3 linked regions of the Homo sapiens genome follow. The protein of the gene in region 3 interacts with the protein of the main gene of each other region in a biochemical or structural test. Each region holds a gene or a part of one and is shown on either strand. Other genes may lie near its edges. The genes, in order: KANSL1, H4C7 and KAT8.

Evidence for each region.
Region 1: the proteins of KAT8 (region 3) and KANSL1 form a complex in vitro, tested with the Homo sapiens proteins (one study listed by BioGRID).
Region 2: of the proteins of KAT8 (region 3) and H4C7, one has a biochemical effect on the other in vitro, tested with the Homo sapiens proteins (one study listed by BioGRID).

What each region holds. Positions count from the first base shown.
Region 1 is NC_000017.11:46,172,811-46,176,467, forward strand, and holds part of KANSL1 (KAT8 regulatory NSL complex subunit 1), read right to left. Parts: intron 1-3,657. UniProt on the Homo sapiens protein: Non-catalytic component of the NSL histone acetyltransferase complex, a multiprotein complex that mediates histone H4 acetylation at 'Lys-5'- and 'Lys-8' (H4K5ac and H4K8ac) at transcription start sites and promotes transcription initiation.
Region 2 is NC_000006.12:26,245,997-26,248,299, forward strand, and holds H4C7 (histone H4-like protein type G), read right to left. Parts: upstream 1,001-2,303; 5' UTR 982-1,000; coding exon 685-981; 3' UTR 615-684; downstream 1-614. UniProt on the Homo sapiens protein: Core component of nucleosome. Nucleosomes wrap and compact DNA into chromatin, limiting DNA accessibility to the cellular machineries which require DNA as a template.
Region 3 is NC_000016.10:31,124,107-31,127,763, reverse strand, and holds part of KAT8 (histone acetyltransferase KAT8), read right to left. Parts: intron 730-3,657; coding exon 676-729; intron 576-675; coding exon 411-575; intron 1-410.

The sequences.
Region 1 (3,657 bases), on a different chromosome or scaffold from region 3:
TCAGATCAAAGTGGTCATCAATATCTTCTCTACTGGCTTCTTCCTCTCAGCCTAGGAATTTACTCAAGTATCTTCTGCCCTCAGTACAGCCTCTCTCTCATACTTAATTGCCCAAATATCTCTCTTTCCCTTTACCCCAAAACTTCTCTAAGAATAGTATAAATAACTGTCTCTGCACTCTTCACTCTTCCATAATCTGGATTTCACCCCCTACTGCTCTGGCAAAGGTGACCAGTAATCTTATTATCAAATCCAATGGTCAAACCTCAGTCCCCATTCTATCTGACTTCTCTGAAGCACTGGACAATACCGACCTTCTTCTAATTCTTTCCTGATGTCCTTGTACTATCATCCTCTTCTCTTCCTCCTGGACCCTTAAATGCTGGTGCTGCACAAGGTCCCTTCTGCCCTCTTCTCTCTCAACAACCACTAGTATGGTGAGGTTTCTTAACCATAAGAAAAACTTCTGAGCTGCACTAATCAAGATTCCTATAACCTCTATGTTCCTCAAGCCCCCTGAAGCTCAGAATTCACTTTCTCCTTCCAGCACACTATTCCGCATCCTGTTTCATTACCTTAAGTAATGACACTGCTTTTATTTAGTAACCAAGCTAAAAATCTCAGTCATTTGCCTCTGTTTGATCCCCCTTGATCTATGTGGTCTGGGAGCCAAAGGAAACATACGTAAAGAACTAAGCCAGTTGTTCTTTAAAGTGTGGTCTCTGGACTTCTGGGGATCTCACAGGCTATTTTGGAGGTTCGTGAAATCAAAGGTATTTTCATAGCAATACTAGAATATTATCTGCCTTTTACACTGTGTTGACATTTGCAATCAGAGTACAAAAACAAAGGTGAACAAAACTGCTGGTACATTATTAGCACAAATCAAGGAAGAGGCACCAAACTATACTAATAGTCATTATACTCTCCACTCAGTTTTTCTTTTTTTAAGGGAGTTCCACTTAAGATGTCCTTGATGAACAGCAAAAATTATGAATTATCTTGAGCCTTTAGTGCATTTTTTAAAAATATTCTTTGTGATGAAAGGGAAAGTATGCATAAAGCACTCTGCTGCTTTATGAATTCTCAGGAAAAAGCACAGTACAACTGAGTTGCAAAATGAACTAGAGCTTTGTTCATGGAACACGATTTTTACTTGGCAGAACTACTGACAAACATTATTTGAAACCTGCTTCACTAGCAGACATTTCCTTGCAAATGAACAAAGTGAACCTGTCACTTCAAGGAAGACCACTGACGATATTTGCTGCCAATAATAAAATCTGAATTTTTTAGGCAAAGATTAGTGTTTTTGAAAACTTGTATCAACAATCATGAACTTAAACATTTTCCCAATATTTTATTTGGTGGGTGTGGATGTGTGTGTGTGTGTTTAACAGAGTCTTGCTCTGTCGCCACGCTGGAGTGCAGTGGTATGATCTCAGCTCACTGTAACCTCTGCCTCCTGGGTTCAAGTGATTCTCCTGCCTCAGCCTCCCGTGTAGCTGGGACTACAGGCACGTGCCACCACGCCTGGCTAATTTTTGTATTTTTAGTAGAGACAGGGTTTCACCATGTTGGCCAGGATGGTCACAATCTCCTGACCTCATGATCCGCCCACCTCGGCCTTCCAAAGTGCTGGGATTACAGGCCTAAGCTGCCACATTCGGACTTTCTGAATATTTTAAAAGCCATTTCTGATTTAACAGACTTGTGACGATATTAATGAACGTGAATTTTTGATTGCATATAATGTAATGTGTAACATTTGGAAGATCTGCATAACCCAGTGAACGATAAAATGTCCAGTGAATGTCAGGAAATCATGCATGGGTAAAAAGTTTAAGTGCAAGACAAATCATTTATTTGTTGCTGTTATTTTGAAACAGGGTCTAGCTCTGTCACCCAAGCTAGAGTGCAGCGGCACAATCATGGCTCACTGAAGCCTCAACCTCCTGGGCTCAAGTGATCCTCCTGCATCAGCCTCCTAGTAGCTGGGACTATAGGTGTGTGCCACCATGCCCGGCTAATTTTTTGAATTTTTGTAGAGATGGAATTTCATTTTGTTGCCCAGGCTGCTATCAAACTCCCAGCTTCAGCCTTCCAAACTCCTGGGATTATAGGCATAAGCCGCCATGCCCAGCCTGAATTACTTATTAAATATTTTTTAAATTTCTCAAAGTTTATAAGAAAAACAATTTATTTGCTGTTCTCAACAAATTTTAAGAGTTAAAAAAGGGTCCTGAGACCAAAATGCTTGTGAAATCACTGGACTAAGCACCCCCCTCCCTGCCCCAAATGAGGGCAATCTCCAATTTAATCAAAAATGCTTATCTTTGGAGCAATACCAACACAGGATGGTAGGCCCTACAGGACCACAGTAAGCTTCTTTATAGTATGACAATTTGAATCATTAACATAAAAATACTCAAATAAATGACTGAGAAAACATTATTCATAAAAGCACCAATATACATATGGGTCGAATCTGTCTTATTGCTGTGTGTGTGTGTGTGTGTGTGTGTGTGTGTGTGTGTGTGTGTGTGTGTGTGTTTCTGAGATGTAGTCTCGCTCTGTCGCCCAGGCTGGAGTGCAGTGGCGTGATCTCGGCTCACTGCAACCTCCGCCTCCTGTGTTGGAGTGATTCTCCTGCTTCAGCCTCCCGAGTAGCTGGGACTTCAGGCATGTGTCACCATGCCCAGATAATTTTTGTATTTTTAATGGAGATGGAGTTTCACCACGTTGGCCAAGCTGGTCTCAAACTCCTGACCTCAGGTGATCCGCTTGCCTCAGCATCCCAAAGTGCTAGGATTACAGGTGTGATCCACTGTGCCTGGCCTCATATAATTATTAACACCAAAAGTTTCTTGTTCCAGGGTTGTATTTTAACCAACACTCTTTATGAACTAGATTTTCAGGGCTTATGTAGTTTTCTCCTGTGGGCTTTCTGGCATATGGCATTCTGTGTGGCACAAATTATTCTATGTTGTCTTTTCCCATTTCTAACTTTAAATATAATACTAATTACTAATATATTATTAAACATTGTGTTACAGACCAGTTGACAGTACTAATTCCTGTTATTAAACATTGTGTTATAGACCAGTTGACAGCTGGACCAATATAGTTGTTAAAAATATTTTGAGTCACTTTTATAATATGCAAAGGGTTTTTCCCATGGACAAACGAAAATCACTACCAGATAATTCCCATCAATTCAATCTCCTCCCCTTTTGAATGTCAATATGTAGTTGATATGAGCAATGCAAGGAGGCATATTATCAGTGCCAGATGATTAATACAACATGTGAAGAGTAATTGTACCCTACTGCCTGACAGCACTACAGTAAGACTTAGCAAGGGCAGGAAACAGCTTCCCTCTGAGGACCCAAGCAAGGGCACAAATATGCTTTATGACTTACATAAAACTTAGGAAAACCCAGGCTCACTCCAGCACAAATGAAAAAGAGGGTCATAATTAACATCACATCACAGAAGGTGCTTAAGTAGTAAACTTCTCAAAGTTATTCTGAGATTATTCAATTCTTTAAAGCTTACAACTTTAAGAAAAAATGCCGGCTTAAATCCCATCTACTCCAGCTGGGCACAGTGGCTCACGCCTGTAATCCCAGCATTTTGGGAGGCCGAGGCAGGCGT
Region 2 (2,303 bases), on a different chromosome or scaffold from region 3:
TTGGCTCTTTGACCCCTGTACTTTCATAAACAGTAAATTGAGACACGAATTATTGCAGTTACACCTTATCAAGGTGTTTCTATATTTACGATGGATCACAAGCAAAGGCACGAAACAGGTAAACTTCTTTTAGTGCTGCTAAATTAGATCATTGAACTAGCAAGGGGGCCAGTCCCTCCACTGCAGACACATTTGTCAGAACGGCACCTGGCAAGTTTGTGCTAATTATTGTGTATTCTCTGGTTATTGAAATTGCTTATTAAGCAGAATATAAAAGTCGGGTTATCTTGGCACTAAAACTACAATTTTAATTACGGAGGGTAATCCTAACAGTAAGGAGAAAAACACACTACCATAACCACATTTTGAGAGCTTTTAAGTGACAATGTAGCCGTTGATGTCCTCAGCCAGCCCACCAGATTTCTAATCTCTGAACACACGATTAACTTACCACCTGTATTCCATGTTGTATGTCAGCCTTGGCGTAAATTTATACTTTACAGCATTATACACCTAACAGCTTTTGGGCACCTACAGCAATAAAACACACAATATTGCTGAGTGCGTTAGTTAAGTTTCCACAATGTCAAACGTGAGCCCTTCGGAAGAAAACGTACGCGGCCCTGAAAAGGGCCATTAACGATATTGCAAGGAAAGGCCTGGCCTCACTTAACCGCCAAAGCCTTACAGGGTTCTTCCCTGGCGTTTGAGCACGTAGACCACGGCCATGGCGGTGACCGTCTTGCGCTTGGCGTGCTCCGTGTTGGTCACGGCGTACCAGATCACATTTTCCAGGAACACCTTGAACACCCGGCGGGTCTCCTCATAAATGAGGCCCAAGATGCGCTTGACACCGCCATGCCGGGCCAAGCGCCGGATAGTGCACTTGGTAATGCCCTGAATATTATCGCTCAGTACCTTGCGATGGCACTTGGCACCGCCTTTCCCAAGGCCTTTTCCGGCCTTGCCCCGAACAGACATGATAAACAAGTCAGAACTATCTCTAAACAAAACGATTACTCGCTTTCCGCAGCCTTTTATATAACGGTAGAGTAGACCTTTTTGAAAACTGAAAGACCAGGAAAGGCGGGAAAACGTATTCAGTCCCCGCTCATCTACTTCTAGTAATAACAAGACATAAGAAATTCTCTTGTAGTAGGGAGATTTGCTGGCATTTAGAGAATAAGGATCTCTAAACGAAAGTGTCAAACATGTACCTAGAGGAAAGTATCTCGATTTTTGATGTCTGTATGTGTTTAAAGATTTACTCCTGGCCGGGCGCGGTGGCTCACGCCTGTAATCCCAGCACTTTTGGAGGCCGAGGCGGGCGGATCACGAGCTCAGGAGATCGAGACCATCCTGGCTAACACGGTGAAACCCTGTCTCTAATAAAAATACAAAAAATTAGCAGGGCGAGGTGGCGGGCGCCTGTAGTCCCAGCTATGCAGGAGGCTGAGGCAGAAGAATGGCATGAACCCCGTGGGGTGGAGCCTGCAGTGAGCCGAGATCACGTCACTGCACTCTAGCCTGGGCAAGGGCGAAGCCCGTCTCAAAAAAGAAAAAAAAAAGATTTACTCCTTCCCTGTATATTAGAGCATTTACCATGCTGAAGTTGAAACAAGCCCAAATTCCAAGACATAAAAGAATTCCTAATCATATTGCCAAGCCGCCCAGCTAAAGAGAAGTAGCCTGGTTTTTGGTTTCGAATCTGTGAGTGACTGCTCTCTCACCGATATTAGACATGTTAATCTGAGTTTCAATGGCCCTATCTGTAAAAAGGGTAAATACTTGTTAATAATTGAGTTACTTTAAGCAAAACACTGGCATATAGTTAGTAAATGATTTTTTTTTAAAATACGGAGTTTCGCTCTTGTTGCCCAGGCTGGAGTGCAATGGCGCAATCTCTGCCCACTGCAACCTCCACCTTCTGGGTTCAAGCTATTCTCCTACCTCGGCCTCCCAAGTAGCTGGAATTACAGGTATGTGCCACCACTCCCGGCTCATTTTTGTATTTTAGTAGAGACCAGATTTCACGTTGGCCAGGCTGGTCTCCAACTCCTGCCCTCAGGTGATCCGCCCGCCTTGGCCTCCCAAAGTGCTGGGATTACAGGCGTGAGCCACCTCACCGGCCAGTTGGTAAACGAATTCTTATTGCCACAGCCTTTTTTTACAGACAAAATAATAATGCAGAGGTAAAGCACACCGAAGGATTTTAAAACATTGCCTTTGCAACACCAATACATTCAGTGTGCTTTCACTTATATTAAGCACTATACAATTAAGCAATGAAGAATTGCCCAGAA
Region 3 (3,657 bases):
CCTATTCGCTTCAGATTCCACACTTCGGGAAGCAGCCCACTGTGTCAGTGATGAGAGCGCCCCTTCCTGACAGCCCCCAATTTCATCCACACTTAAGGTCCCACTGCCAGGGGCTATGTGTGCTTCCTGGGATGGAGCTGGCCTTGGCAAAAGACCTGAAGGGGGTGAGTTACTGTCCCCATTCCAGAGAAGAGGAGCTGAGGTCTGAAGTTGGCAAGGTCACCCTGCCAGCAACAGCAAAGCCAGGCCTGGAATCCAGGCCTCCTGACCCCCAGCAGCTCTTCCCTGTACTCGCTCCTTTGGGCCTGTCTCCTCCCTGGAGCTGCCGGCGCAGCCGCCCTCAGTCTCCATGCCTGCCTCTGCCTCTCACCGGGCCCCTGCCCAGCTCGGCCCGGCCGGCCCAGCCTCACCAAGTGGAAGCGGTAGCTCTTCTCATATTTCATGTACTTGAGGCAGTACTCGCAGAGCCAGAGCTTGGGCTGTTTCCCATAGTCTTCGGGGAATGGTGAGAAATACCAGGCATCAATTTCGTAGTTCCCGATGTGGATCTTGTCCACATACTTCACCTTGGTGATCTGCAGGCAGGGTGGGAGTGAGGCACAGTGCACGGCTCAGCAGGGGCTCCTCGGCAAGGGGAGACGGGGGACCTGCAGGCAGCTTCCCAGCCCCACTTACCGCCTCATGCTCCTTCTCCAAGGCTGCTGTGGTGGGGTCCATCTCTGCATAAGTCTGGGCCAGGAAAGAAAAGTGGGCAGAGGTGAACAGAAGTGGTGACCAGGCTGTCCCTCCCGTCAGGACCCACAAGGCTTCCCTGCCGTCTACCAGACCTCATTCCTGGATGGCAATAATAACCACACCAATAGCTAACCTATCTGACTTGGTTCTGAAGCTGGCTGGTCCAGACTCCTCTCACACCCACCCGCCCCACCCCCGATATCCCAGACATCCCTGATGTCCAAGTTTGGACCTTTTGCCAGATGAACAGGGTTAGGATCAGGATGGGGCTTCAGCTGCACGATGGGGGGCAATCCAGCTCTGCCAAAGTTGTGAGACTCAAATGAAATAACAGATTTGCCTTCCAGGCCCAGCGTAAGAACTGTTACTACCTCCCCGATGTTCCTGGACCCCTTTCCTGAGGACCAGACCCTGCCTGCCCATGCGACTGCCCCAGAGGTCCCTCCCACAGGGACAGCGGACTCAAGATGTGCAGAAAGGACCTCATCACTCCTCCCTGCAAACCTGCGCCTCCTCCTGGGTTGCTCATTTTACTGGGAACATCACCCTTGGTCCCAGTGTCCAAGACCCATAACTAGGCTTGCCTCAGACTACTCTCTCTCCCTCGGCCTGGCCAAGTCCTAATACAGTGGATGTCGAGTCTACTTCTGACATCTCTGGAATTGGGCCCTCTCTGGAATTCTCCTCTCTGTCCTGCTCCAGGTAGTCATGGCCCCATCTCAGGTCTGGACAATTTACTAGGCCGCCTCAGACTCCCTGCCTCCAGCCCCAGCCTCCTCATTGCTATCAGCAGCCCCCTTTTAGCGGCCTTCATGCTTCTGCACAAACAGCTCCTTCTACCTGGAGAATGCCCTTCCTTCTCTCACTGCCAGCAGAAAACACTTCCTCAGCCTGGCACGGAGCATGAGTCAGGTGAGTCCATGATGCTTTGTGATCTATCCTTTGTCACTGTTGTTATTGTGCTCTTTCCCATCCTTCAAGGCTTGAGATTCTTACCACCCCCTCCAGGAGGCCTGACTGGATTCTTCCCATCCAGAAAACATTCCCTCCTTCCCAAGTTCAGCGAGAAGTGGTCAACAGGGCAACACTGTCCAAGTATGCCCACCTGGGTTCCTCTATTTTTCAAGTCCTTAGAAAGCAGAGACTAAGAGTCACACCACACTCACAACACATCCTGCTCCTAGGCCAGACCCTGTGGGAGGAACCCAGTACAGCCTGACAATGGAAGGGGGACCCAAGACGGTCCATGACCTACACCAGGGCAGACAAGGCCCTGCCCTGTAGCTGAGAAGGGAGGAAGGAGCCAGTGCTTTACCCAGAACCCCCTCCACAAAGCACTGTGCCTATATGTTTATATGGCCTCATTTAATCCTTTCAGTAACCCTTACATAGAGTGTTATTTCTTTTTTTTTTTTTTTTTTTTTTGAGACGGAGTCTCACTCTGTTGCTCAGGCTGGAGTACAGTGGCACCATCTCGGCTCACTGCAACCTCCGCCTCCCAGGTTCAAGCAATTCTCCTGCCTCAGCCTCCCAAGTAGCTGGGACTACAGGCACATGCCGCCACATCCAGGTAATTTTTGTATGTTTAGTAGCAATGGAGTTTCGCCATGTTGGCCAGGCTGTTCTCAAACTCCTGACCTCAGGTGATCAACCAGCCTCGCACTCCCAAAGTGCTGAGATTACAGGCGTGAGCCACTGCACCCAGCTGCGTTATTTCAATTTTACAGAGTAGTAAACAGGCAGGGCAAGGTGAGGTCCCTTACCCTCGGGGACTAGTGAGCTGCCATTTATTCCAAGTGGCAAGCACGGCACAGACATGTTTTTTTTTTTTTCTTCTGAGATAGACTCTCACTCTGTCGCCCAGGCTGGAGTGCAGTGGGGAGATCTCAGCTCACCACAACCTCTGCCTTCTGGGCTTAAGTGATTCTCCTACGTCAGCCTCCCAAGTGGCTGAGACTACATGTGCCTGCTACCATTCCCAGCTAATTTATTTTGTTTTTTGAGATGAAATTTTGCTCTTGTTGCCCAGGCTGGAGCAATGGTGCAATCTTGGCTCACTACAACCTCCACCTCCTGAGTTCAAGCGATCTTCCCACCTCAGTGTCCCAAGCAGCTGGGATTACAGGCGCCCACCAGCAAGCCCGGCTAATTTTTTGTATTTTTGGTAGAGATGGGGTTTCACCATGTTGGCCAGGCTGGTCTTGAACTTCTGACCTTCAGATGATCCACCCACCTTGGCCTCTCAAAGTGCTGGGATTACAGGCATGAGCCATAGCCTTTTTTTTTTTTTTTTTTTTGAAATGGAGCCTCGCCCTGTCGCCCAGGCTGGAGTGCAATGGCAAAATCTCACGTCACTGCAACCTCGCCTCCTGGGTTCAAGCGATTCTCCTGCCCCAGCCTCCCAAGTAGCTGGGATTACAGGTGTGCACCATCACACCCAGCTAATTTTTTGTATCTTTAGTAAAGACAGGGTTTCACCATGTTGGCCATGCTGGCCTCCAACTCCTGACCTCGTGGTCTGCCTGCGCCTGGCCTCTTTTTGTATTTTTAGTAGAGACGGGCTTTCACCATATTGGCCAGGCTGATCTCGAACTCCTGACCTCAAATGATCCAATCATCTCAGCTTCCCAGAGTGCTGGGATTACAGGCATGAGCCACTGCACCCAGCCGACATTATTTCATTTTGTTCCTCACAATGAGCCTTTGAAATAAGAGTGCTCATTGTCCCTGTTGTATGAGAGAAAACTGAGGCACAAAGAGGTGAGGTCACTTGCCCAAGGTCACAGAACTGGTACTCAGCAGAGTTGGGCATGGGCCCCTGGTCTGTCCAATTCTGAACCTAACCACTGTAAAGATGAGGAAGAAAGATTTTCCTCCTCACACATCTCTTTAAAACACATTTCCCAATTCTCACAAAATACA